Regions from separate parts of the Homo sapiens genome. Here regions 1, 2, 3, 5, 6 and 7 are each linked to region 4. Evidence: fine-mapped expression QTL. A gene starts in region 4. Each other region holds a variant in brackets. All regions are shown on one strand. Distances are between the middles of the regions. Region 1 holds the start of KRTAP9-6 (keratin associated protein 9-6). Region 2 overlaps KRTAP4-12 (keratin associated protein 4-12). Region 3 overlaps LOC124904002 (a long non-coding RNA gene). Region 4 holds the start of KRT23 (keratin 23). Region 5 has its middle 6.5 kb from the start of KRT36. Region 6 has its middle 8.7 kb from the start of KRTAP9-7. Region 7 has its middle 3.5 kb from the start of KRT40.

Region 1 (4,069 bases), 330 kb before region 4:
GCAGGTGGATCACCTGAGGGCAGGAGTTCCAGACAAGTCTGATCAACATGGTGAAAACTACTAAAAATACTAAAAATACAAAAAATTAGCCAGGCGTGGTGGCACAGGCATGTAATCCCAGCTACTCAGGAGGCTGAGGCAGGAGAATCACTTGAACCCAGAAGATGGAGGTTGCAGCGAGCCGAGAGCGTGCTACTGCACTCCAGCCTGGGTGACAGTGAGGCTCCGTCTCAAAAGAAAAAAAAGGTCAGTTGAGCAGAAGGTTGTTGTGTGAGGATGATGGTCCTCTGTGGTGCTGCTCAGCAACAAGAATGCTGGCAGCAGCTGGACACACAGCAGGCTGGGCAGTAGCAGGGCTGGCAGCAGCTGGATCCACAGCTCTGGTTGAGGCAACCAGGCAGGCAGACAGTCGTGGGGTGGTAGCAGGTTCTTCTGCAGTACACAGGTGCACAGGAGCTGCTCTGGCCACAGCTGGACCCACAGCTGGTTTGGCCACAGCAGCTGGACCCACAGCAGATGGGCTGGTAGCAGGGTGTGCTGCAGCAGGAAGGCTGGCAGCAGCTGGTCACACAGGTGGGCTGGCAGCAGGTGGTCCTGCAGCAGGTGTTTTGACAGCAAGTTGGGTGGCAGTAAGGCTGGCAGCAGCTGGACACACAGCAGGAGGGCTGGCAGCAGGGTGTGCTGCTGCAGGTGGTCACAATGGTGGGCTGCCAGCAGGTAGTCCTGCAGCAAGTGGTCCTGCAGCAGGTAGGCTGACAGCCAGGGGAGCAACAGTGGGTCATGTTGTCAGGGGTGGAGGGTGGGCTTCTGTTCAGAGGTGAGTTTCCCAGGATTTGATGACCCCTTGCAATCTGGACCTTTTATACATGTGGCCTCCAAAGTTTCCACCAATCAGCAGGATTTTTCTTTCTTGCTGTTTACAGTTGTTTTCCATAGTCAGTTTGGCATTGTCAAAGAGGAAGTCATTTCCTAAATGTTATGAATCTTTGGAAAGTAAGGGTTTAATCTGTTTCTTAATTGTAAATTACTCGTAGAAACTTTGTTTCAGATAAAAGGAAGGCAGTCTCATCATCAGCTTCGTTCCTGCTCTGACCAGCATCTCGTCATGTGATAGTTCCTGGTGACTGGGGAGGCTCAGGAAGTTCTCTCTGCCCAGTCTCATCCTTTGGCTGTATGTAGACTGGGAAGTGTCTGTGGGGAGAAGCATGATGTTGATATATTCACAGTGGTGAATTGAATCCATGCTTGGGACCAAGACTGTTCACCCACCAAAGTCTGATTCAAGACTGATAGGCATCTCTCTATGTACAACCTACTTTACCTGTCTCTTCCAGTTCTATAAAAGCCTCTTGGGAAGAGGGTGTTCAGCACAATGTGTGCTATGTGGCAGAGCAGAGCCAAAGCAAACACGTAGAAAGAGGAGGGGTTCACTGGAATTCACAAAGCATCAAGCAATCTACGTGCTGCGGTGACCATTCACCCTGATTTGTCTGGGACTGAGGGGCTTACCAGCATGAGAATGTGGGACTGGGAATTACTGTGACATTACTGCTTGAGGTCCAGGCAAAGCAATATGAGCTGTGGCTCTAGCCCTAATCCAGGTTACTGGCACAATCATTGCCATTTCTCTGTCTCTGTCTCTGTCTCTGTCTCTGTCTCTGTCTCTCTCTCTCTCTCTCTCT[CTG/G]TCTCTCTGTTTTCAGTGAGGGAATTAGGTGAGTTGAGATGATATCTGATTCCTCTTTGAGGTTTACCATTGTTTAAAACTTTTTAAATTATACCATTCATTTCAGAAGAGTGCAAATTATGAATTCCAACTTGATATAATATTACATTATAAATACATCTAAGTCCCCATTACCAGTTTACAAAATAGAAATTAATTCCATTCCCTCCAAATTATATCTTTTTACTTATCTCCAAAGGTAGCTAGTCACTCTATCAAGTTTTAATCCTGTAGGTCAGTTTTGTTTTTTTCTTTGACTTTTATGTAAATAAAAATTATAGAATTTGCTTCACTGTGTTTTTGGCATAATCAAAAGCAGCAATTATAACCTGGTCATTTCATTTTGGATCCTTCATGTTAGCAGACCAGCAGGTAGATAAAGGAGTTAATATTCCATGAGGGATAATTTTCGTGAAGCCATAGAGCGTAGGGAGAATATATCTGAAACTCAAGAAATTTACTATATATATTAAAGCATTACACTGCCATTAAAAACTATGGCAAATCAAGTGGCTGAAGTTTATTTTCTCACAGTTCTGAAGGCTAAAATAAAGGTGTTGGCAATGTTGTTTTCATCTGAGGGCTGTGAGGGAAATATCTGTTTCAGGTCTCTCTCCTTGACCTGTAGATGTCTATCTTCTCCATGTGTCTCTTACATCATCTTCCCTCTATATGCATCCTGTTTGAATTTCCCCTGTTTATACAGACACCAGTCACATTGAATCAGAAGCACAATTTATTCCAATATGACCTTATCTTACCATCTTGCATTTAAGTGACCCTATTTGAATATGAGTTCTTGGGGACACAATTCGACCCATAACCTTGGAATATCTCGTAGTGTATCCATGCCCATTGATAAACACAAATGAGTAACAAAAGCAACCACAGTTGGACAATGGTGTAGTAAGTAACTAGAGGGTAAGACCCATCAGGCAGGAAGTTCTGAGCTACTTCATCAGGCAATTATCTAAACTAACAGGAGTGCTGGCCAGTGATGAAGGGAGTATAGAACTGGCGGAAACTGATGGAGATTATGAATCTCAGAAGCACCCTATTACAGCAGTAGTTTCTTTTCCCTTCCCTCCCTTCCCTTCCCTTCCCTTCCTTCCCTTCCCTTCCTTTCCCCTCCCCTCCCCACCCCTCCCCTCCCCTTTCTTTCTTTCTTTCCTTTTCCTTCCTTCCTTCCCCTTCCTTCCTTCCTTCCTTCCTTCATTCCTTCCTTCCTTTTCACTCTCTTTCCTTCTGTCTCTTGCTCTCTTTCTTCCTCCGTTCCTTTCTTCCTGTCTGTGTATATTGTCTTCTTCCCATATCTTTCCTAGTTTTTTCCTCCTCTCTCACCTTCTGTTCCTCCTCTTCCTCCTCCTCCTTTTTCTCCTAGAGTTCATGGCTGTCCATTACATTTAAGAAGGAAAGATTGGACTTGAATGGAGCAAATGTTACTGTAGACAGGTCTTCATTACCATACCTGTATATCATGGAACTTAGGGTGCTCATACCAATTTCCATCTGCCTGAATCTGCATCTCTGTGCCTTAGGGCTCTTGTATTGCAACTACAGAAAGTCATGTCACCTGTGCACACTACAGGGAGAAAAATATTCAACTGAAAATTCTAAAGAGTGGATTTATACAGACTCTAGCTTCTTCACTGCTGAAGTTTGAGAATTCAAAGTTGTGTGTTTTTCATCATTTCTGAAAAATTTCCCTTTAGCTTAAGCTTCAGTTGATCTCTGTGATACTGGCTTAATAGTATACCCTTTTCTGTATCACTGCCACAATCCCTTCTGGCCTGTTCTGCCCTTCCTAATACACTGTATTCATTGGAATCTTTTTCTCAGAGTATCTTCTGGGAAAAACCAAACTATGACATTACATCTCTCAGCCTCAATTTCCTCATCTCTACAATTAGAACACTAATGCCTACTTTGAAAGTTTTTTCAATAATTAATGATAATGTACATAAAAGATTTACACAATATCCATCAAATGATAGGCAACTGAAAACATATTATTTCTTTTCTCTCCAGAAATTCCTAAACTAATTTTAATGTTGATGATAAGAATATATTTATAATAATTAACTAGATCAACTTTTTTTCTTTTACTTTAAGTTCCAGGACACATGTGCAGAATGTGCAGGTTTGTTGAGTAGGTATACATGTGCCATGATTGTTTGCTGCACCTATCAACCTGTCCTCTAGGTCTTAAGCCCTGCATGCATTAGGTATTTGTCCTAATGCTCTCCCTCCCCTTGCCCCCGACCCCCCCAACAGGCCCTGGTGTGTGATGTTCCCCTCCCTGTGTCTGTGTGTTCTGGTTGATCAACTCCCACTTATGAGTGAGAT
Region 2 (4,069 bases), 180 kb before region 4:
GCTGCAGACCCCAGTGCTGCCAGTCTGTGTGCTGCCAGCCCACCTGCTGCCGCCCCAGCTGCTGTCAGACCACCTGCTGCAGGACCACTTGCTGCCGCCCCAGCTGCTGTGTGTCCAGCTGCTGCAGACCCCAGTGCTGCCAGTCTGTGTGCTGCCAGCCCACCTGCTGCCGCCCCAGCTGCTGCATCTCCAGCAGCTGCTGCCCCTCTTGCTGTGAATCCAGCTGCTGCCGCCCCTGCTGCTGCCTGCGTCCAGTCTGTGGCCGAGTCTCCTGCCACACCACTTGCTATCGCCCAACCTGTGTCATCTCCACCTGCCCCCGCCCCTTGTGCTGTGCCTCCTCTTGCTGCTAAATCTCTGCTGTGAACACACCACTTCCTTATTACGTCCTTTCCTACAGATGAAGGCTCTCATTGCAAACATGCGGACTGTTCAAGAGAATTGATCTGGGTCCCATAAGCAAACCTCATCCTTAGAAATTCTGTATTTGCATTCTACCTTTTGTCCAAACTCCCTTCCTTCCAAAGGAATTCATTGACAATCTCCTAATAAATTGACAAATTGTCCTCCAACATCCTCCCACCTCTTTGACTTCAGGACATTTATTCATCATGCCTAAGGAATTTGAAGATTGCCTCCATCATTTGTAGGGCCACAGATCTTAAAGCCTCCAACCTTGAAGTCCAGTGAAGTCTCTCTCTTAAAGTCTTTTGCAAACATTTTTGTACCTTGTTATTTCCATGTACCAAAATAAACCTCTATTCTATTGGCACTGAAAATTGAATATGATTCTTATTCTCTTTTTAAAAAGGGTTTTATATTTAGGTCCTGGGTGATTACATTTAACTACACCTGTAGGGCTCACAGCACAGATTAGTCAACCTTCTAACAGAGGTCAACTGACATCGATCACTGCCTAGTTTTTTTCTAGAAAAGTCTTTTCAGGCTTAGGCAAATCAATTAGTCATTTTGTATTCTTTAGACAAAAAGAGTGAAGCTGAAGTCATGAAATATCCATGAATATAACAACAGGGGAAACGTTTTGAAAGATTGATCACAACTCATCATCTTTTAAAAAATAATTTCAACTTTTATTTTAGAATCAAAGAGTACATATTCGTATTTGTTACATGTTGTGTGATGCTGAGGTTTGGGCTACAAATGATTCTGTCACCAGGTACTGAGCAGTGGGTCATTTTTAGCCCTTCCTCTCTCCCTCTCTCCCCCCTTTTTGGAGTCCCCAATTGTTCTCATCTTTGTGTCCATGTGTATCCAATGTTTAGCTCCCATTTGTAAGTGACAACATGCAATATTTGGTTTTCTGTTCCTGGAAAAATTTGCTTAAGATAATGTCCTCCAGCCACATCCATGTTGCTGCAAAGGACAAAATTTCATTCTTTTTTATGGCTGTGTAGTATTCCATGGTGTGAAAATGTCACATGTTCTTTATCCAATGCACTGTTGATGGGCACCTAGACTGATTCCATGTCTTTACTATTGTGCACAGAGCTGTGATCTTTTAAAACACTGTATTTCAATTTCTTTTTTTTTCCAGTAAAAGCAGCTATTAGGTGGTTTAGCAAAGTCCATGTATTTTCTACTGAGTCATGTGTAATGAATCCTCAACACAAACACAGTGGATCTCCTTCATTCTGACTGGCAGAGTTTCAATGGGGAGTTCATGCTGCCATGTAGAGAGGGCCACCTTCACGGCCAGGCAGGTGATGGAAATGAAGGAAGCAGGCCTAGTGAAAACTCACAGGTATGCTGGAGACTGATTTTTTTTCTTTTCGTCCAAAGTCA[T/A]GCCCTTTTTTTAGGATGAAACTATAAAGACCCACATTTCTCCCCAACTAGGGATGCCTCTAATGGGTCATCTCATCTCCAGAACTCCCTATAGGTTCATCTGAGACTTCCACGGAGATTGCCCTGCAGTTTGATTTATCCCAGTGTCAAACTTGATCTTTCTCTCACTTTCCCTTCCTTTCCCTTCCCTTCCCTTCCCTTCCCTTCCCTTCCCTTCCCTTCCCTTCCCTTCCCTTCCCTTTCCCTCCCCTTCCCCTTCCCTTTCCCTTTCCCCTCCCCTCCCTTTCCCCTCCCCTGCCCTCCCCAGTGTTAATCCCAAGAGCATGCTTCAATAAACCTCCTGCATATTGCTCTCCATCTCAGTGACTGCTTCCTGGGGAACCCAGCCTGTCCCCCAAAACAATTTGAAATTCATGATAGCTAATTTGAGAGCTCAAATGACTGACTGAAATGTACTTTTAATATTTTAGTTCCTGAAAGAAATAAGAATGTAAACATAATAGCAGAAAATATATTTAACAGAATATGTAGAAAAATTATGAATTTTATATAAATCACATTTATTATTTTCTAAGGATGTTTAGATCATTTATACACAAATATATGCTCTTTAAACATTTAGACAATACAAAAGAATGTGACAATGTGAACAAAAGTAAGTTTCCCATCATGATCTTTGCCAATCCCATTCAATACCTAATGTTGCAAATTGAGATACATCCTCATTAAATGCATGCATAAAACATGTATGTATTTATTTGAAAACTTGGCTTTCGTTGCACATCTCTTGTTCTGACATTTATTCAAACATTATTTTATGTCCTTCCGGAAATGTTAACATTTTCCTTCACAAAGGCTTGGCAGATTTATTTACATATTTTTCTATTTACTCTTGAGAACTGTGAGTACATGCTTCTTTTTTTTTTTATTATACTTTAAGTTCTAGGGTACATGTGCACAACGTGCAGGTTTGTTACATATGTATACATGTGCCATGTTGGTGTGCTGCACCCATTAACTCGTCATTTACATTAGGTATTTCTCCTAATGCTATCCCTCCTCCCTCCCCCCACCCCACGACAGGCCCCAGTGTGTGATTTTTCTCCATTAAATTTTAGAGAGAATTATTGCTAGTGTATAAAAAGTCTATGGATTAGTATAAGTTCATATTTTATCTGATCTCGCGATTCACACTAATACCCAGCTGACTCTACAGGATTTTACAGGTGTGCAATCATGGTGGCCAAGTGCCTCCAGCCTCAGGCTTGTCCCTGGGGTTCGTCCCCAGCTGCCCACAGTGGGGGCCTTACCATTAACACAAACACTGTTGGGATTTTCTACCTTTCCTGTCTTACTTTCACCGTTTCCTCACTTGTGCTTCCTGGGATCATCCCCCAAATAAATTATGTGCACTCAGGTCTTTTTCTCAAGGTTTGCATTGGGTAGAATTTAAGCTAAGACAACAGATTATCAGCAAACATTTTTGGCTGACTGATACGAAACAGGAAATAATAGTTATTTCAATCAACAAGAGTAAAACGAGGAAGTCAGGAGGTGAAGGAGAACCAGTGCTACCATCTGGCGTTTACTTCCTTCCTGTCTTTTTACTGTGTGAATATAGGCATGCACGTTCAACACTGTATTCTTGGTTATCTATAAACAAGTCTCATTCTATAAATTGAATCTTGACTTCCGCAGTTTCCACGTATGTTATTTATCGGGTGACATGTTACCTATCACACAAATGAGTTTAGTCTTCCTGAAATGAAATTATGATTTCTTTGTTTGGGATGTTTTCCTCCCTTTTATCCAGAAGTCAAAAGATATATACATTTTTTAAAGGACCTTACATGCCTCTATGTCATCAAAAAAACCTTCATTCACTCAACAAACATTTACCACCAGTGTTCTCTGTGCTGAGTATCATGGTAACGAGAATAAATGCCATAGCGCAAGCCTTCAGGGTATTTGCATTGCACGTGGTGGAAAGACAGAAGTAAATGACTATGATACAGGAGAATGTATAAATTATGAGCACAAGGCAGGAAATCATGATACATGAATGGGGTAGCTTAGCAGGAAAGATATTATTGAGGAGGAAATATTTTAACTGGGTCTTGACACATGAGTAGGAGTTTGCAGAGTGGACAAAAAAAGATGAAACATTCCAAGAAGATGAAGCAGTTTCAGCAAGCTTAGCAAATTGTATTCTTTACGGCTTTCTTGGCTACACTAAGACATATTAGGCTTACTTTCTCTTTAACCT
Region 3 (4,069 bases), 180 kb before region 4:
GGAGGAAGCATGCAGGTGAATCAGTGCAGGAGCCAAAGTGAGTGCTTTTGGCCACCGGCAGGAGCAAACTCTGTGTGGGCCCCACAGCAGCATCTAGGTGGGGGTGCCTGCGACCCCCATAGCCCCAGAGGGCATGTTACAGTGTTCTTTTAACTCTGCCTTCCATGGATGGCTTAAGTGTCAACAGCTCAGTGAGGCCTCTGCCTTTTTGTGTGAGGCAGCTGCCCTCCACCAGCAAGGGCAGAGGGCCAGTGTGACAGTCTTTTGTATCTGCTCTCCTGGCTCCCAAGCTCTTGTCTTGTGTCCAGGAAAAGTGAGGTCACATGAACCAATCAAAGGATGGTAAATGTGGGGGATTTTGTTGCTGATGAAAGTGGCTCTTAGCAGAAAGCGGAGCTGAAAAAGGATGGGGTGGGTAGGTAATCTTCCTCAAAGTTAGGCTGTATCCAGCTGGATTCTTCTCCAAGATTACACCATCAAGCTGTCCCTCTGAATCAAGCTGCTTCTCTCTGACGTCCAGCTGTAGTTCCCAATGTCCAGCTGCTTCTTGCCTCTGCCAGCTGAGTCTGGCATCTTCACAGGCATAGGATGGACAGGATGGAGCCATGAGTGGTTTAGAAAAAGGCAACTTTCAAGCAGGAAAACAGGGATATAAGTTCTCACTTTGGGCCGTGGTTTAAGGCTTTTCAGCTTGAAGGTGGGGTTTTGTCAGAGACCTACCCTTTTCTGCCTAGAATTTCTCAGCCCCCTGTCCCTATCAGAACTTTGTTCCATAGAAGGAATTTCGGATAAGACTTTTGGAAAGCTTAGCCTAGCCATGGATTTGTACCATCAAATACCTATGAGTTGCATGAATTCCTCTGCTCTTGAGGTTCCAAGATAAACTTGGGGCTCCTGGAACTGTTAGAAAGTGACATGCTTTACTTACCACAGGTCAGGAACCCTGTACAGGGACTGTGTAGATAAGGTATGAGGCCAGTTCTCCCAAGGGGCTTTTATTGGCTCCATAAGTCAAATTTGATTCCTTAAAGGAGAGCACACCATTCCAGTCAAAGCCTTGGTAAAATGACCAATTTCTCCAATTGTGTCTTGTTACACATGAAAACAGATTATTATTGCACTTATGCAAATAACTGTATTGCCATAAGTTAAGAATACTCACAGATAGTTTCCAATTCTGGGGAAAATCAGGTAGAGAGAAACAAATATGCTCCAAATATTTTTCACAGGAGTATACTAACTTGTTAAAAGCTGACAACAGCTCAAATAAAAGTTTCCTTGACTAAAAAAAGGAAAACAAGGAGCAGCAACATTTTAAGCAAAAAGTCAAAAAGATTACGTTGCTCTTCTATTAGTTCAGTTCATGCAGTTAATTCCTGTTCTGCTTGCTATTCATGAACATTTCAGGTCTCCATGAGTTCTGAAAGCTTTTCCTCCATTCTGATGTCACAGTCTCCAAAGTTATTAGAAACTTGCCTTCAAGAACACGTGTTAGAGTTTTATAGCTGATTATAAAACCATCTTCTAAAAAGGACTAAAACAAAACAATTGTCCATGGGTGACAAAAAGTTTTAGGTCAGCCATAATCAAAGACACAATTGACAAGAAAATTTGTTACCACTGTGGCACACGATAATTTTATATAACAATTATAATTATTAGTGATATTGTACACCATGTCATATCAGAATTATAGGAGTTTCCCATAATTTTGGTGCACATACCAATAACATTTTTATACAAATACAGCCCAAAGAAAACCAAACACCATTTTATATTTGACAATGCTTCCTGTATAATTTTTATACCAAATAAGTCATTTATTTCATTTTTGGACTTTAGGGAAACTAATATCTTAGAGGATTAATTAGGTCAGAAAAATACACAACTTGTAATTTGATTCTGGAAACTTTGCCAAATATCAAAAGTTTAAAATACTTGATAGGTCATCATAAAATAAGTCAATTTTTCAAACATTAAGCCCAAATAAAACAGCATAAAGCCAATTAAATTTGTTTTTTGAAATTTTATTATCAATCTTTAAAATTTTAATCTTGACCATAAGATACAGCTTCCATAAGCCTTTTTTAACCTTTATAACCTTTATTAAGGGGTCGGTTAACACTTCAAGAAAACCTTTTTAATCTGA[C/T]GCAGGGGCCCGTATGCTGGTATTGCATCAGTGTGCCTTTGACATCAATTATTAACTTGCAGAGAAACTGAACTTATTTTGTCTCTCAAAATCAGCCCTTACAATCTCACATGCCTACCTCTTCTGTGGTAGTTCCTGAGCCTTGAGGAGTTGAATAGCTTTTACTTCTGGCCTTATGTCTCAGGAATGCAGTTTATTTTGATTGGCATCTTCTACCAGGCCTGAAGATGAGGTTTTAATTGCTGTCAGTGCTTAAGATTTAGCAGACCTTGGTGTCCTTTTTAGACCCAGGAGTCAAAGGCCTGTAACTTAATGTCACAGGTACTTTCAAAGCACCTACAGAAATATACATGGATGTAATAACCTTAATTTTAAAAAATTATCTCAGATACTTTTTCCTGAGCAAATCAAAAATTAATAATAACAGCATAGCATTGTTTCAATAAGCCATAAAATCTGTTAGGTCAATTACCCAAAGGCAAAAGAAAAGACCTTCTACACTGCACAGAATATTACTTTGGAAGAAAACATTTTCTTTAGACTTTTAGAAAACATTGTTAGCATCAGACCATAACAAATAGAATTTAAGGAAAATAACTTATATGAGCTGCAAACGAGTTGAAGGGGAGAGAAAACAGCGAGTAAACAGTTGAACTTTGGGTTAAAAAAATTAAAATCTCTTATAATTTAATAAGAGTAAATCAATCCCTTAAGAAAATTTCATCGCTCTAACTATTTTGTTTATCATTGCTTTTTTTTTTTTACATGAAGCCCAATCTTCAGGAAGACTATTATAATTTCCTTTTAATTACAGACAACTTGACCATATAAAAGTTTGTTGGTTTTTTTTTTAATCCTCTTATTATGACTTTTACAGACTGTTCATGATATGCTTGGACTTTCTGGTTTGTTTTGAACATCCATCTTTCTTAAACAATCATTTTATTTTAGGTCTAAATTTACCATACAAGATCTTTTCTCATATGAAATTATTTCTCTTTAAGCTTCCTTACCAAAAAGAACCCTCTTTATCCTCTTTATTTTTATACCTTTCTTTACATCTCTCTGATTTCCTGGTTCCTTTTAACTTGTCTTATACATAATCTTTAAATAAGCATTGAATTAGATGACAATTGTTCACCTTTTTAAAAAGGAATTGTTTACCTAGATTATTTATGAAAACTGCAATAGTCATCATTTAAAGTTATGGAACTGCCATTGCAAAATTATAACTGAGACAGTGAAAAAGATCTGACCTAATTGACTCCATCTTGCTTCTAACCTCCAAACTGTTCTTGTTCAATCCTGGGCACAGGCTGAACAGACGTTGAGAGGAACATAGTTTATAGTTTACCTTTGAAACAAAGATTATAACAGTTCATTCTCAAACTAAATCTTACTGCCTGTGGACTAGACCACCAAAACCACAAAATTAGAAGTTACAGTAATCTCACTAAATTCAAGATGTGACTATTTTTATTAAACCAATATCAATGTCTTATTTATTAAAGATTATACAAGCAAAGATCATTCTATTACAGTTTTGTAACTCCATGGCAAATTTTGACACCTTATGGTATTTGACAGGGATAAGCATGAAATTGCTTGATTAATAAATGCAAACAAAAATGCATGCTGGCAATTTTTAAGACATGTCTAATATTACTTTACCAATAATTTTAAAGCTAGCTTATTTATTAAAGATTTTACTTGTTACATAAACTTCAGAAAGCATTCAACTAGTCTTTTCTTTTTTCCTGATAAAGTATTAGATTCAAGTGCTTTTTATCTTAAGCCAATTAATTAGAACTCTTTTATATATTTTCAGTAGCGAGAAATTGTGTACACATCACATAAATATATAGACATAGTAGGCATGCTGATAGAAGTACATCGTATAGATACTTAAGGAGCTTTTTT
Region 4 (4,069 bases):
GGCTGAGGCAGGAGAATCGCTTGAACCCAGGAGGCGGAGGTTGCAGTGAGTCAAGATTGCGCCATTGCACTCCAGCCTGGGTGACAGAGCAAAACTCCATCTTGAGAAAAAAAAAAAAAGAAGTTATGGGAAACCATCATATAACAGTACTAGAAGAGACTATTTCTCCCCAGTGCTCTCAGATCTCACCACCAGTTTTTCCTGGCCCTGGTCCTGCTATGACACAAGAAATCTTTTGCTCAAGGATAAGTCCTATAAATCAAAACTCCCACACATGGACATAAAATGAGACAGTGGCCAAATCTATGGGGTTGATAAGTCACTGCCACTCAGACATGCCTGAAATAATTAGAGAAGCATTAATTTCATTGTAGATTCTGGTGAGAGAATTTAGAAAAAGGCAGTGCAGCCCGGCCCTTGCACATGCTAAAGGTAAATGTTTTCTTCCTTGGTAAGTCTGGGTCCAGGCGAACAGGAACCAGAGCTGACCATAACTTTGATGACCAGGAACCGTCCACATCCACAGAACACTGGTTGCCACCACTCGCCAAACAAGTCTCTCTAGTTCCCTCATTTGCTCTATTTTTATCACTTGTCTCTTTTGTCTTTTTCTCATATCTGAGATGTAAGTGACTGTCGGCACTCTTTCTAAGCACTCTCCAAGCTTCCCTGAGGCTTGGAGGCTCATTTTTCCAGCTCGTGCACAGTGAAATAAAAAATATTCAGAGACTCTTCCCTGATAAGGTTTTGTTGTAAGACTGGGAGGAGCAGAGCTGGTGTGCTTTTGGGTGGCTTTATTTGTAATTGGAAAAGATTGGCCTTCATGGATGGTTAATCTATACCCAGGAGAGGCGTTTTCCTACTTTCTAGTTCTATAACTCACAGTCCTAAAAGGAGCAGAAGTTGATGGCATCAGGAGACCTGTGTTAAAATCCTGACTCTAAAAAGTTTATGATTGAGTCAACATACATTTGCAAAATACCACCAAGAAACCAGACTTTGGTGCTCAAAAATGGAAGACATAAACTCTGCTTTCAAGAAGCCTGCGGTCTCAGAAGGGTGTGGCAAATGCAGTATAATGGAGTGAAAGAACGGAGTGGACTTCATCCCAGGCACAGGAGGTGGCTGCGCCTGGCTAGGGGCTCCCAGCTTCCACCATGAGGTGGGATGCCAAGGTGTCTGCCCCTCTGGAGGACCTCGGCATCCAGAAGAGGCAGTTTCCTCCTAGAGGGTCACCCAACTCATGCAGGAGAATTCAGAAAATGATTGTTGAAGGAGGTAGCCCTTGAACTATAGAAGAGGTAGGGGTGAGTGACTTTCCAGGCAGGGAGGACAGCACAGACTCGGGCAGTGTCACCTATGAATTCATGTGCTCAATTACACTGTACATGCGAATCAGCTCTGGATCATTCATCCCTATGAGACCCTGATTCTTTGTCTGCAAAATGAAGACAACAACCCTTGCCTGGATACATAAAGAGTTGTGAGGATTCAATAAAGAATATAAAAGAGCTACACCAATTGGCAAGTCCTATTATTATGAAAGAGAAGTGTGGTACAGGACCTGTCAAGATTCAACCCAAGATAACAGTGCTATGTGGAGAAAGAATCTAGCCCTGGCTCTGCCACTAACCTCCCCACCACCATAGGCCTCAGCTTTCCTCATCTGTCCAATTAGTGGCTTGGAACCAGAAAGGCCAGAAGCCCTTCCTGCGCTGATATTTTATTTGTAAGTCCCCTTTAAATCCAACTGCCAGTAACTAGCACGTGGCTCCCGCCCCCAGACTGCTTCTTTATTCATTCCTAACCTTTACCTTGGCAGATGAAATATAAGATTCATCAACCACATTTGACAGCCCATGGCAGGTTTCCTGTTTTCCATCGTCCCTCTGCAGGTCACAGACACACAGAGCCCAGCCGTGGCAGGCTCAGCCGGGGTCCGGGGCTGCTAACAACGGCTACATTCCTCCCCCAGGGCCAAGGGAAATCCTGAGCGCAGGCCAGGGTTGTTTGGTTTTGAGGTGTGCTGGGATGAAAGGCACCCTGGAAGTGGAAGGTTCGGTCATTCATTAATTAATTACATCTATAATTGAGGGTTTGTTCTTAAGAGCGAGTCCTTTGAAAGTACTTTCCTTCAAACAGTGACTGCCACAAAGGCATCAGATATTCACCACCTTCTCGGCTGCCTCAGCACAGCAAGCTTTATTCTGGGACCTGAGATCCTGTTCTGAGCTGGCTTTCCCTTCTCCAGGCTCGCTCACCCTCCCTTTAGAGGTGGGGCTTATTGGGGGTGGAAAAAGGTGTGTGTATCTCTGTTGTTTAATGTCTGGTTTTTTGTTGCTGTTGTTGTTGTTTTGTTTTGGTTTTGGTTTTTGGTTTTTTTTAAGGAAATCTATACTACATCGAATATGCTTTCTTTTGGGTGGACTTTAACCTAACCCATTCCAGGTAAATGAACAATGGAAAAACTTCACGGCAAGATTAGAAAGATACCTGAGCCCAATACCCGCCTGATGTCGTGGGCCACACCTCCGGGTTACCAGGGGAAGGGAGGAAGCAAACTGTCATATTGATGTGGCTCTAAACAACAACAGTGTGCGAAGGCCCAGGGGCACTTTGGGATTGACCAAGAGGAAACACAAGTTGCACAATGATACAATCTTGTTGGTACAATTGTCAGAGAAGGGAACTCCCACAGCAAAGGCCATAAAACCATCCAGGGCAGTCTGGGGCGGCTCAGTTCTGCGGTGCCAGGGAGTGGAGCAGAGCTCAGCCCCGTCCCAAACACAGATGGGACCATGAACTCCGGACACAGCTTCAGCCAGACCCCCTCGGCCTCCTTCCATGGCGCCGGAGGTGGCTGGGGCCGGCCCAGGAGCTTCCCCAGGGCTCCCACCGTCCATGGCGGTGCGGGGGGAGCCCGCATCTCCCTGTCCTTCACCACGCGGAGCTGCCCACCCCCTGGAGGGTCTTGGGGTTCTGGAAGAAGCAGCCCCCTACTAGGCGGAAATGGGAAGGCCACCATGCAGAATCTCAACGACCGCCTGGCCTCCTACCTGGAGAAGGTTCGCGCCCTGGAGGAGGCCAACATGAAGCTGGAAAGCCGCATCCTGAAATGGCACCAGCAGAGAGATCCTGGCAGTAAGAAAGATTATTCCCAGTATGAGGAAAACATCACACACCTGCAGGAGCAGGTAAGATGCTGGGTGACCCTGGAGATCCAGATGGGGCTGCTTTGCCAGGGGACCCTCGGGAGGAAAAATGAGTCCAGAAGACAATTTCCAGGAAAATGGCATCAGCGCTTGAAGTAATTGTGCACAAAGGTTTTGGGGGATGTTTTCTTATTATATCTTAAATTTGGAGTGGGAAACGTCTGTTTTGTTTAATTAGTCTACTGTCCATGGATAATGTAGAAAAAGAAGGCAGCAAAAATGATAGAAGTGCTACAGACTGTTTCAAAAATGAGACTACTGATTTCTCACAGACCAAAAACATCTTTAAAATGTGAGGCAACCAGCTGCTGTTTAATGTCACTTATGACCCAACGATGTCATAGAAATGATAAGGGCTGGTGTTCATGCTGCATGCTCAGTGCACCAGGCATAAGAGAGTGTTTACTTTCTCATTACCTCAGTTCTGCTCCACCTCAAACTTTTTTGAACAATGTGGTTATCCATCGACAAAAGGCTGTTACACTATTTTGAAGATTATGCCTAAAAGTTGTCACCACACCAGCATATAGGTCATCATGACATCCCTAGATATTTCCGTTTGTGGGTTGCTTGCAGTAAAGTTGCTCACAGTTCTGACAATGGCATATTGCTAGAACCAATAATAATAAAATGAGCATAATTTTTAGAATCTGAGAGTTGAGATGGCTATAAAGACCTTGTTCAAAAAAAACCGAACTCTTTAACCAAACCTCAAAAAAGCTAAGCAAATACCTTCTGGGATGTCTCATAACATTAGCTAGAAGTAGAAGGAATCCAATCATCTCATAGGTTATGTTTTAAAGCTATCTAACTCCCCTCTTATATAAAGCAGTCCCAGAAAATTCCCTGTAAGACCA
Region 5 (4,069 bases), 560 kb before region 4:
AACAGTCACTGGTGCATAGTAAGTGCTCAGTAAACAAGATACCTCTGGTCATGATCTTTCTCGTTCTCTTTTCTAAGCTATGCGTTCCTTCTGGGTAGGGCTGGTTTCATCGTCAGTCTCATCCTCATACCTAGAACGTTATAAGGGCTCAATAAATGTGTTGAATGGAGAAATGAGGGAATAAATAGATACAAGCTATGGGAAATGAAAGTGGTAAGTAAGTATTGTACAGAGAGCACAGGAGCCCCTACCCTAGACTGAGAGAGGGGCCTGGGGTCTCAATGCTGAGCTACCCTGGCTGCTCCAAGGCACCCTGGGGTCCAGATCCCAGGGCTTATGGGGCCCAGAGCAGCCCCTCTTCCTGAGACCCCGGGCATGGCTGTTTAGGGGCAGCCCCCTCATTCTCTGAGCTAGTTTTGCAAAACTTGGTGGGGGGTGAGGGTAGTTGCCCACAGGAGCAGTGAAATGAGCTGCACTCTAGGCCCAGTGGGGACTCTGGCCTGGGAGCCTTTCACCCAGACCCCAGCAAGGACACTGAGAAGCTGGGCCCCATCTGAGGACCTATGTGGCCCCATCAGGAATCCCGGGGAAGCTCAGAGGGCAGGCCGAGAGCAGGTGTTTCTGCCAAAGCTACCCCAGGAGCCTTCTTGAGTTGGGAGTAGCAGGTGGTCATCCCGGCTCTCTGGTCAGAAGGGTAGGAGAGGCAGTGGGTGGGGAATCCGCCTCATTCTCTCTGGGACTCAACTCTTTATCAGGTGTGGGGCGGCCATTCAAGTGAGGGCAGATTTATCAGGCCTGCTGGGTCAATGCTCCCCTTCCCAGGGTTGACCTAGGTGCCACGCCCATGCCAGTCTCACACCGCTGATTCCCAGTGCTGTGGCTATGAGGAAACAGCCCCTTTCCATTGGCACCTGGCTAATGTCCATGCCAATGATTGTGAATGAGGCCATGTCAGCACAAGAGATGCCGGAATGAAAGAGATAACGGAAAGGGGGACACAGTAGCGCATCCTTTACTCTCATCCTTTCTTTCATTTCATCTTTACAGCAATCCCATGAATTGGCACAGCTGTGCCCATTTTACACATGGAAAGACTGAGGTCTGGACGGGGTCAAAGACCTGCCCAGCGGGAGAGCTGGGACCTGTGGTTCCAATGTGCTTTCCAAGACTGGGGCTGGTCCTTTGCCAAGGGTCAAGCATTCGGCTCCAGGAATCTGGGGGAGAAGTGAGGCTCTCTCCCAGACCCCAAAGCCTAGGGGATGAAGGAATCAAGCCTGTGATGTTCCTGGGGTGTCTTGGCACCTCAGAGCCAGGTCGGGTTCTGGAGGGAGGAGGGCAGCGGGTGGCACACAGAGGTGGAGAGACGTGGCGCTGTTCTGTGACTCCTGGTGCTTCAGCCACTTCCTCCTCACCCCAAGCAATAGGCACCTCCCTCTCTTCCTGGCTCCACCCTGGGGAATGAGCCAGGCTGCTGCCCTCCTCAATGCGATGGCTGTCCTGCCCAGGCCCTGCAGGGGGCAGGCTCACCCCAGAAAGCAGATCAGTGCCTC[A/G]ATGGCCACCTGCTGGGATACAGGGTGGAGTGGCTGGGCCCTAGACCCAGTCCTGGCCGGGCCTGGTCTCAACATAGGGCCCCGTCCGGTCCCCAGCTGGGCCCTTAACAAGCAGGGTGTGGCTGCAGGCACATTCCAGGCCTGAGACCCCCTTGGCGCCTGTTCCCCTCTGTGTTGGGTGATAGTTTTGAGGATCCACAGAAGACCCTTGACAGGCAGGGTGTGGCTGCAGGCACATTCCAGGCCTGAGACCCCCTTGGCGCCTGCTCCCCCTCTGTGTTGGGTGATAGCTTTGAGGATCCATAGAAGATCCTGAGTATGAGATGGGGTGTCTGGGCCTTCCTGGCAGGGGACTCTCACTGTCCCAGCCAAGGGAAGCTCTGGGGAAGATTAGGAAGCAAAGTCACAGCAGGAGGTGCAGGGCGATGGGTGTGATGGACTCTTCCAGATTTTTTTTCTTTTTTTTTTTGAGAAAGAGTCTTGCTCTGTCACCCAGGCTGGAGTGCAGGGGCATGATCTCTGCTCACTGCAACCTCTGCCTCCTGGGTTCAAGCAATTCTTCTGCCTCAGCCTCCCAAGTAGCTGGAATTACAGACATGCACAACCACACTCAGCTAATTTTTGTATTTTTAGTAGAGACAGGGTTTCACCATGTTGGCCAGGTTGGTCTCTAACTCCTGACCTCAGGTGATCCACCTGCCTCCGCCTCTCAGAGTGCTGGGATTACAGATGTGAGCCACTGCGCCTGGCCACTTCCAGCTTTTCTTATCCAGCTGTGGGGGCCCTTCCTTCCTCCCTGCCTGGGTCAGGGCATCTGAGGGGCGGCCCAGGGAACTGGCCTCTTTTGGATGGTGTCCCTGGGACTGTTGGTGGCTGGAGCAGAGCAGAATATGTGGGTTGTGTCCCTTTGAGCAGCTCCTCTGGGGGCTTCAAAAGAGCTGGGCACTCTTTACACCCTCCATCCTCCTGCAGAGTTTGAAAGAAAATAAGCAGGTGGCGGGTGCTGCTGAGACTTGCACAGGCACCTGTTGGGGGTGGGTATTTGGGGGACTTGGCCAAGAGCTGGTATCCCTTTTTATGAACAGTCATAATGACTGTGGCTTCTTTCATCCAAGGATCTCAGACCAGTTTGAAAGTAAAATCCACAGTGTCAGGCATGGTTAATTACAGCCCGGAGCCCGCAGTCTGGTTTGCAGACACGCTGTTGTTCGTAGGAAGAGAGTCAAATCAATTGCATGCCGGCCCCTGTAAATGCAGACTACAAGTCCAATCAAACAGGGTGTTTGGAAAATTCGCTTTATGGTTCAGCTAAGTGATACTTGAATCAAGGGGACGCTAGACACTGAGGTACCAGCTCTTTTCTCCCAGTGGGCCTGGCTGTGCATCTCCCACAATCACAGCTTCTTCAAGCACACCAAGGAGAGAAAGGACGCTCTGAAATGCTCCAACCATAAAAGTGGGGTGGGGGAGTTAGGGACTCGGTGAGTCTGAGCAGGAGACTGTGGACTCTTCCAGATGGGAGCTGGCAGCCAGTGCAGCTGTGCAGGGAGCGCTGGCCCCAGGGGAGAAGGTGGTGGGCCCTGAGATGTGGAAGGCCGAGCTTGGCCACAAGAGGACCAGAGAGGTATGGCTTAAGGCTGGAGTTAGGGTGGCTCTCTGGGCATCTGCCACGGCAAAAGCAGCTTGGAGCAGAACCTTGAAGTCCTGGGCAAGTGCAAAAACCACACCCCAGGGGGAGAGAAAATACTTTTGTATTTTGGGGGAGATGAGATTTCTAGAGTAACTCCGGGCCTGGTCAAGTGGGACTTTGAAGGCCCGATGAAGGTCAAGGCCTGATGGGGGCTCAGGAACAGGCCAGGAACAGCAGGTTGGGAAGCTGGACCTATGCTCCTTGTAGGGCCCCAGAGTCTCAGGAGGAGTCACTGCTCAGGACCAGGACCAACACTGTGGAGGGGCAGCCAGGCAGTGGGGGGGACCTCCTTCACCACTGAGTCATGTTCAGATTGTCTTGAACCTGGTGAGGCCGGGTGATAGCAGGGGGCAGGTGGACATTTGGGGCACAAGCTGGGGGGTGGGAAATGGAGCAGAGAGAGACTTGCTAAATCTTGTCCAGGAAGGTCTGAGTCACCCTGTTGAAGGCAGCTGCCATCAGGATGGAATGTCACTGAGGTGGCCAGGATGGGAGGCAGGATAATTCAGCTTCTGCATCTCCAAGTACTGTTTGGACTTGGGAGGGCAAGAATGACAGCCACTGACAGCAGGGTGTGAGAGGACAGGAAGGCACGATTCTCCAAGGGAAGCCCTCTGTGTCTGACCCTGAGAACAGCCAGCCATGGTGACAGGCCATCAGGGAAGGAGGGAAGAAAGAGCTGCATTTGTGTGGCCAAGGCTCTCAACCAGTGATGTTTCCTTACTGAGGGTTTCAGACACAGGACACTCAGATCAGAATTGCAGGTAAACAAACAACAACAACAACAACAACACAGACACACACACACACCCTATAAGTATGCTCCTAA
Region 6 (4,069 bases), 350 kb before region 4:
TCCATTTGGGGCCACTATTCCCCTTTCCAGCTGTCCTTCTACACAATTCTGTTCAAATATTATTCTTTGAATATATAAGTAATATTAAGAAGTCCTCCTTTCTTATGTCTTAATCATAATTTTACCAGTAGATCTTAAATGAAATCCCTTATATTCTTATCATCACCTATTTGTGTAGGTACAGTTCTTTCATAGTGGACTTAATGTTGGTCTTAGTGAGTGGTTTGTTTTATATATTAAGTATACTTATGCTTTGCTATATTTATTACTATTGGGCACTTAAAGGGGAATGCTTGGAAAAAACTGGGTTGATTTTGCTAGGAATCAACCTTAAAGGGCAGAAGATTATTGAAATTTGACCCTTTCCATCTTAATCTTTGTTCCAAGCAGGAATCTGACTGGGGCTGAAGAGCTTGGTTTTTACCTTGTCCTTATCTTGCATAAGGAATGCTTTTGTTTAGAAAGAGGATCTGAAGGTTTTCTGGTCTGGGACAGGCCACAGCCACTGTGGAACGCAGTGATAATAAAGGATGGATAAGGCTTGCATGCTTTCCTTAGCGAGTTTATACAATCTATCCAATTTAGGCTTTCTTGATTTATATTCTAGAATAATGTCTATATTTGTTTATTTAAGTGGGAATCATTTTAATTTTATTTCTGATTTTTAATCCTATATTTTCTGCATTAGTTATCTCCAAACCTACAATTTAATTAAATTTATCCCAGCGTTTGATCTTAGAATATAACATTCATTCTTGTTTCCTGCATATTCACAAGAAAAATCCCAAGCTGTGTTATCTGAACCATCTGTCAGAAGAGGTTCCAAGGAGAAGGTGTCCAGTGATGAAAGAGCCGAGTTTTCCCTATTTTGAATGTAGGAAACACAGGCTGGTTTTTCTGAAATTAATCCCTGTTCTTTCCATAACAATATTACATTGCACTAGAGGGCCTAACCTAGGGATTGTCTTTTATGTGTAATTCAAATTCTAAGAAGAATAAATTAATTATAGTCCAATCACCACTATAACTCACAGCAGGGAGGAAGGAAGAAGTATGTGGTGTGTCACTCATAACAGGTTGGTGATGTTAGATTATAATTAGATGAACAAAGACACACACAAAATCATAAGAGTCAACCCAACACTCTGATGATAATTCTACATTATCACTATGATGACAACTCTGTATCACACAGTAATCTTTTTTTAAAGACTTAGTGAGATAAGAAAGATAAACAAAGCCCAAGTTATCCTGACATGCAATAGAAATATTACAAATAGTCAACAGATATGATGGTAGACATGAACTAAACCAAATATAAATTTCATCATGGATGCTCACCATGCAATGGTGTGAATGAGAATGCATTGGTACAGTCAGATATCATCCAAGACTTGGAACCTATGTTCAAAACGATCAAAACCAAATTATGTAGCGTCACCTTAAAAAGATGTATGCATTCAAAGTCTGAGGAATTGATTCAAGTCTAATTGAAGATGTAAAAATGTGAAAGTTAAATTAGAGTATTGTTGAACCATGGAAAATCAGGGTTAAGACAAGTGCTGGGGTGAATGTTGGCAGTGTGCCTCCAGGCAACTGCCCACAGGAGAGGGACTATGAATTTTCAATTTCCATTGGTGAGAACTATTGTGAAACGAACATGTCAAATGCCATTCAACATTTAGTTTATATAACTT[C/T]CTGTCTGATTCCTTACTCATGTGGTGTTTTAGAAGTTCCTGTTACTTAATTCTCCTGTAATTTAATAAATAGGCATCCTTGCTTTTTGGGCTTGGCTAACAGGTGTCTGCTCTAAGACGTGGCTTAACCCTTAGAATGTAAGCAAAATCAGGTCTCTGAGTCTGCAAGGCTAAAGGCCAGAACCAGGTACATTTATCAAGGGTTGTGAATTCTACCTTGCATGCCATTGGGGAGATAGTCCTTATTTTTTTTTTTTTTTTATCTCCAAGGGAATGCCAATTATCATGACAGTGTGTATGCTTTCTTTAAAGCATTATGTATGTGAATGCTTACGGAGTTCAGAGAATAACAACCTGTTAGCAATTAATTAATCAAATAATGATGGGGCAAGACAGAGTGTTTAAGGATCTCAAAGAATCTCAGGCATGGAAGGAATCCTAATAAACTTCCTGCCATGTGTTGCCAGATCCAATGCTTAAGTGTCTAGTAAATGGAAATTCATACACCCGGGGTGGTCTGTTCCATTCCTAGGAAGATCTTTTAAAGAGCTTTTAGAGAATTTCTGTACTCACTCTAGACCCCCTGAACTTTTTCCTCATTAGAAGCATCTGTGACTAAGCAATCAGAATGGCTTTTCTGAGCGCTTCCCTACCCTTAGCTCCATCCTCTATTCCAGTGCCCTTTGCTGGAAAATCACATTCATGTTCCTGTAAATAGCCAATTATCTTCCTGCTCTGTAGAATGCAGTTCCAGCCAAACAAGCATTTCCTTGCCTTGCTATCACAAATTTTTACATGGTCCTTTTGCAGCAAGTTTATCATCACTAACCTTTGCTTACCAAGTCCTTCTCATTGTTAAAATCTAGATCAAGGTGGTTTACCTGGTTGCCTAAGAACCTTCTGCTCAATTTTAGTGATTCTGAGGTCCCCACAAAATAGCTAGATTGTTGGATGTTCCTTCATCCCTTCTCCTCCCATGTGTGCTGGTTTTGTGATCTGCCTTTGCAATGTATCATCAATTTCCTGTGTTTGGCCAGGAAGACTGCAGTATGTCCACACAAAGAGAGCTCATGGGTTCATCTTCCCTTCTTTGTTCATGCACAGGTTTTCCACTGTGGAAGAAGGCAGGAAAGTCTGGGCCATGAGGATCGAAATCACATAGATGAGTATTTGCATCATGCCTGTTCTGCTACCTACAAGCTGCAGGCTTTGGGGGAAGTACTTAATATATTCCAACCATGTTTTATTGTTTCTGCATTTACATTTTTGGGGAATTTTTGTACCTGAGTTCTTTCAGTATCACCCCTGTTGTTCTACTTGGTAAATTGATTCATGGGTTCAAAATGGAAGTTTTTTATTTCCTTCCCTCTCTGATTCGTTGCTAAGATACAATTCTGTTAGATACAGTCGTCATGAACCACCCTTCCTATATCATTAATAATATAGGCTCACCTTCCTCACTTCTACTGTATAAATTTTGTCTCTTGTTTGTATTCTTCCCGAAGCACAATAAAGGTGAGGATGTTGAATGTCTCGTTCACTTCTGTAATCACAGCACCTGGCACAGTACTTAACACACAGTAAGTGCTCAATAAATCTTATTTAAATAAAGGATTGTTTTAATATCCAGATGTAAGTCTTTATTCTTATTCACTCTCCCGAAGTCCCAACTATTGGTAGAATAAGGAAATGAGACTGTGTGAGGGTACCAAGTAATTTGCTGTCATATTCAAGACTCCATAGACCCGGTTATGTCTCTAGACTGGTAGGGGCAGGGAGCATAGCACACACAGTGAGTGTAGTGTAGACAGCTTAGTGTTTGAAGCCAGGTCAACTGTTAACTGTACAACTTTGAACAAGTTCCTTCATCTCCCTTAGCCTCTGTTTCTTCATCTGTGAAATGAGGAAAATAAAACATTGGTGGATTATGAATTAGAAAAACCTAGACTAATACCTGTAGTTACTCAGTAAATGGTAGTGCCTCAGCTCATCCTTGAATGCATCAGGAGAGCAAGCACTTAGCAAGTCAGACAACATGGAAGCCTCTTTGGAAAATCCCTCCACCTTCTTAGATTTCCTAAGACCTAACTACTATGTGATAGCTCAGGCCACAGAATATTATTTTTCCCCTGGAGCCAGTATCTGTTCTTTTTTTTCAAGAAATATCTTGGTATCCTCTTTGGTGTTCAGCTCTTCGGAAAGTCTAGCTCCCACTTTGGGGGACTACAATAACGTCTATTGTCATTATATCCAGTATACTTTTTAAGAGTGACCAGTTTCCTTTATTTTCTTTCTCAAATCCTTATGTTTTCTTTTTCTAATACTCTGATGTTGAATCTCCTCTGCTTCAACTTTGCCTCACAACATTGAGG
Region 7 (4,066 bases), 50 kb before region 4:
ATTTTAAGGTGATATTTCATAATGAAAAAGGGAAAATTCATCAGGTGGTCCTATAATCCTTAAAAATATGACCCAATAACAGAGCTTCAAAATAAATAAGGCAAAAAATCACAGAAGTCAAGAGAGAAATAGATGAATCCAAAATCACATTTGGTGATTTTAATATCCCCTGTCAGGATCTGAGAGAACAAACAGATAAGAAAATTACCAAGGAGAAAGAAGATTTGAATAATAGTATCAAACAATTTTACTCAGTTACATTTACAGAATGTTACCCCCTACAATTGCAGAATATACATTCTTTTCAAATGCATAAGGAACTCTCACCAAAATAGACTATATTCTGGGCCATTAAATTTGTCTCCATAAATTCCAAAATCTAACAAAATATGTTATCTGACCACAATGGAATTAAATGAGAAATCAATCAGATACTTAGAAAAATCACCAAATATTTGAAAATCAAACAACACAGTTCTAATAACCTATGGATCAAATAATAAATACCAATACAGCTTAAGAAATATTATGAGCTGAATGATAATGAAAACAAAAGATTTTAAAAATTTATGGGATACATACAGCATTGGATTAGTAGAAAATATACAGCAAATGATTATATTAGAAAATAAGATTTACATCTTTATCACCTTCATTTATCTCTTCATCAATCACTTAAGTTTTCATTTCAACTAAATAGAAAAAGAACAATTAAAATTCAAAGTAAGGAGAAAGAAATAAATAATAAACATAATATCAGAAATCAATGAATAGAAAACGAGGAAATTAATGAAGCTAAAATTTGATTCTTTGAAAGGATTCATAAAGTACTTCTATTTAGTTATTTTTTAGTTGGCAAATAATAATTGTGTATATGTATATTTGTGGGGTACAATGTGGTGTTTTGATTTATGTATGCATTGTGGAAAGATAAATCAAGCTAAGTAACATATCCATCACCTAAGCACCTGATCATTGTTTTATGGTGAGAACATCAAAAATCTACTCTTTCAGCAACCTTGAAATAAACAATACATTAGTATTAATCTGATGAACATCAAGCCAGATTGATGGGGGAAGCATGAGATAAAACACAAATTACCAATATCTGGAATTAAATAGTGAGAATTTATAGACACTGCAGATACTAAAATTCATGATAAGGATTATTATGAACAACTTTATTTCAGTATTTTTGCAACTTAGGTGAAGTGAACAAACTCCTTGAAAAATGCAACTTTCACACAAAATGAAATAGAACAACTGAATAGCATTGTGAGGTTTCTATAAGTAGAGGTAAGCAATTTGATGTAGAGGTCAGCAAATATACATATATTTGCGTGTGTGTGTGCATGTGTGTGTGTGTGTGTGTGTGTGTGTGTGTGTGTGTGTGTGTGTTTGAAATGGAGTCTCACTCTCACCCAAGCTGGAGTGCAATGGTGTGATCTCGGCTCACCGCAACATCTGCCTTCCAGGTTTCAGCAATTCTCATGCCTCAGCCTCCCGAAAAGCTAGGACTACAGGTGTTCGCCACTATGCCCAACTAATTTTTGTATTTTTAGTAGAGACAAGCCTTCAGCATATTAGCCAGGCTGGTCTCAACCTCCTGCCCTTAAGTGATCTGCCTGCCTGGGCCTCCCAAAGTGCTGGGATTACAGGCTTGAGCCACCGCGCCCAGACATTTTTTTTCCTAGTTAAAAACAAAACACAACTTTTTCACATGGGAGACTCCTGGAAGAGGTGGCCTCACTGGACTCCATCAAACATTTAAGGAATAAATAACACTAATCTTACAGAATTTCATGAAATAAAGAGGAAACATTTCCCAATTTAATTTATGAACAGTATTACTCCATTCTCACACTGTTATAAAGAAATATCTGAGACTGGATAATTTATAAAGGAAGGAGGTGTAATTGAGTCCCAGTTCCACATGGCTGGGGAGGCCTCAGGAAACTTACAATAATGGTGGAAGGGGAAGCAGGCACTTCTTAC[A/T]TGGGGGCAGGTGAGAGAGAGCGTGGGAAGGAGGAACTGTCACACACTTACAAAACCATTAGATTTCCTGAGAACGAACTCACTATCACAAGAACAGTATACGGGAAACTGCCCCCATGATCCAATCATCCAGGTCCCTCCCCTAACACGTGGGGATTTGGGGTTTATAATTTGAGATGAAGTTTGGGTGGGGACGCAGAGCTAAGTCATATTGTGAACCCAGTATGTAACTTGATACCAAAACCTAACAAGATCATTAGAAGAAAAGAAATTTACAGGAAATATTTCTCAAGAACATAGATGGGGGTGGAAATCCATTTGCTAATCCTATCAACTAACTGAATAAAACAATTTACATAAAGGATAATGTAGAGTGACCAAGTTATTCAATATGATTGATCATGTTGTAGGGTCACCCAGATCATCCCTCCACTTCCTTCTTTGCCTTGGGAAACAGATTACCTTGACCACCCTGTGGCCCAGCCAGCTGTGTGTTTCCCCTGCAGCTTGAACCCGAGCTGACCCTTGAACATTCCCAGGCACTGTTAAAAGTTATTTAGGTTGTTGCCCAAAACAGTGAAAATCAACCAAGTTGCTGCACGTGGATACTAGCTCTGGCCCTGAGCCAAATTTCTTAAGGCCTCATGTAAACTCTTATAACCTGTCGCACAAATGTTAAAAGCAACAAGACAACTGCTATAGCAGAGATGCGTGCAAAGTGCTCTGGGAGGAGCCACATCTCCACATGAGGCAGTTGAACGACGTTTCAGCTGAGTCTTGACATGTGAGTTCATCCAGGAAACGAATAGCAGAAGAGCATTTGACCAAGAAAATAGTACCTACGAAGCTTGAAGGATGGCTGGAGCTTAGGGTTTGTGAGACAGAACATCAGGAAGTGAGCCCAGAAAGGTAAATTGGCACCAGGTTAGGGAAGGTCATATTTGCCAAGGTAGAAAGTTTGCATTCCATAAGTGGAAGGCGACAAAAAGCAGGTTTGTATTTTAGGAAAATGATTCTGGCAGCCTAGGTGGATGTTGTAAGGTAAGAGCATAGTATTATGCAAAATAAACTACCGTGTTGTTGTCGGTTTTTTTTTTTATCATGGCCTTTCATGATGTCTATTTCTTTTTCTCTATTCCCAATGTTCCTTTCTTCTGGTGATGATATGCTATAGAAATTGTCACGGGTGATTAGCAACTATCTGGGGCTGGTGGCATGGGGGTAAGAAGAATTTATCAAGATAGTTGTAGGTAAAGAAAGGCAGATATATTAGAGAACGTATGAAAATACGTTGCAAGGAAGCAATGGGCAGCACAGCAGAGAAGGGGCTGTCTGCAAGGAGACAAAGGCGTGCTGGAGATTTTACAGGATGGTGCTTGTACTGTGTGCTGAAGAGGGTTTGTGTGGTACTGATAACACTAAGGTTGCAGTGAGCTAAGTTACATTTTTCTATCAGCTGAAGGTCTGGTGATAGCTGGGTGCAGGAATATTGTGCAGGAGGGCTATGTGTCCTGGACCATGAAGAAGGTGAGTCTTATACATTACCTGCTTTCTTTCTTTGTTTTTTGTTTTTTGGTTTTTTTTATTTATTTATCACATTGTGCAGGTTAGTTATATATGTATACATGTGCCATACTGGTGCGCTGCACCCACTAACTTGCTTTCCTCTGGTCCTGCCAGCCTGACTTCTTTTCCCTAAGGAGGACTCCACAGAAATGAATTCTGGGTGATTTCTATATTCTACGATGGAGACTATAGCTATAGATCATTATACAACACTACCTAATTAATCAAGACCAAAATAAATAGTCCTACCTGCAGGACAATAACCAGTAACAAATAATTTACAATTAGAAATTAGTTCCAGACAGAAGGAAATATTTCTTATTTTACCTGCACTTACATGACTGCATTTTAGCTAACTGGAGCCTGTGATGGACAACCAAAACATGGGTTTTCTTCACAGATATTTTTCTTTTGACTCATTAGGTTACTGTGAAAAGATAATTTTCTTTCAGAGATTTGTAATTTTTCAGAAGTGTTTTTGAATCCTTGAACTCATATTTGTTGC

Evidence for each region. PIP is the estimated chance that this variant, and not a neighbour inherited with it, causes the effect.
Region 1: its variant is fine-mapped to the expression of KRT23 in whole blood (INTERVAL, PIP above 0.99).
Region 2: its variant is fine-mapped to the expression of KRT23 in whole blood (TOPMed, PIP above 0.99).
Region 3: its variant is fine-mapped to the expression of KRT23 in whole blood (TOPMed, PIP 0.99).
Region 5: its variant is fine-mapped to the expression of KRT23 in whole blood (TOPMed, PIP above 0.99).
Region 6: its variant is fine-mapped to the expression of KRT23 in whole blood (INTERVAL, PIP above 0.99).
Region 7: its variant is fine-mapped to the expression of KRT23 in whole blood (TOPMed, PIP above 0.99).

The regions. Positions count from the first base shown.
Region 1 is chr17:41,262,091-41,266,159 of GRCh38, reverse strand. KRTAP9-6 (keratin associated protein 9-6) reads right to left here and starts at 782. Exons shown (of 1, transcript NM_001277331.1): 1 at 300-782. The coding sequence starts at 782. The coding sequence ends at 300. The variant CTG/G (reference allele first, on the strand shown) is at 1,683.
Region 2 is chr17:41,119,801-41,123,869 of GRCh38, reverse strand. It overlaps KRTAP4-12 (keratin associated protein 4-12), which reads left to right. Exons shown (of 1, transcript NM_031854.3): 1 at 1-779. The coding sequence ends at 353. Among named protein-coding and RNA genes, the nearest start is that of KRTAP4-12, 2.3 kb to the left of the region's middle. RefSeq lists an enhancer at 8-561. The variant T/A (reference allele first, on the strand shown) is at 1,804.
Region 3 is chr17:41,110,613-41,114,681 of GRCh38, reverse strand. LOC124904002 (a long non-coding RNA gene) reads right to left here. Exons shown (of 2, transcript XR_007065754.1): 2 at 2,012-4,069. Among named protein-coding and RNA genes, the nearest start is that of KRTAP4-11, 5.7 kb to the left of the region's middle. The variant C/T (reference allele first, on the strand shown) is at 2,150.
Region 4 is chr17:40,935,333-40,939,401 of GRCh38, reverse strand. KRT23 (keratin 23) reads left to right here and starts at 1,756. Exons shown (of 9, transcript NM_015515.5): 1 at 1,756-2,056; 2 at 2,449-3,194. The coding sequence starts at 2,799. The region is part of intron 1 of LOC107985072 (a long non-coding RNA gene); the gene reads right to left.
Region 5 is chr17:41,494,352-41,498,420 of GRCh38, reverse strand. No RefSeq gene overlaps it. Among named protein-coding and RNA genes, the nearest start is that of KRT36, 6.5 kb to the right of the region's middle. The variant A/G (reference allele first, on the strand shown) is at 1,551.
Region 6 is chr17:41,282,360-41,286,428 of GRCh38, reverse strand. No RefSeq gene overlaps it. Among named protein-coding and RNA genes, the nearest start is that of KRTAP9-7, 8.7 kb to the right of the region's middle. The variant C/T (reference allele first, on the strand shown) is at 1,698.
Region 7 is chr17:40,985,760-40,989,825 of GRCh38, reverse strand. It overlaps a transcript of KRT40 not described here. Among named protein-coding and RNA genes, the nearest start is that of KRT40, 3.5 kb to the right of the region's middle. The variant A/T (reference allele first, on the strand shown) is at 1,996.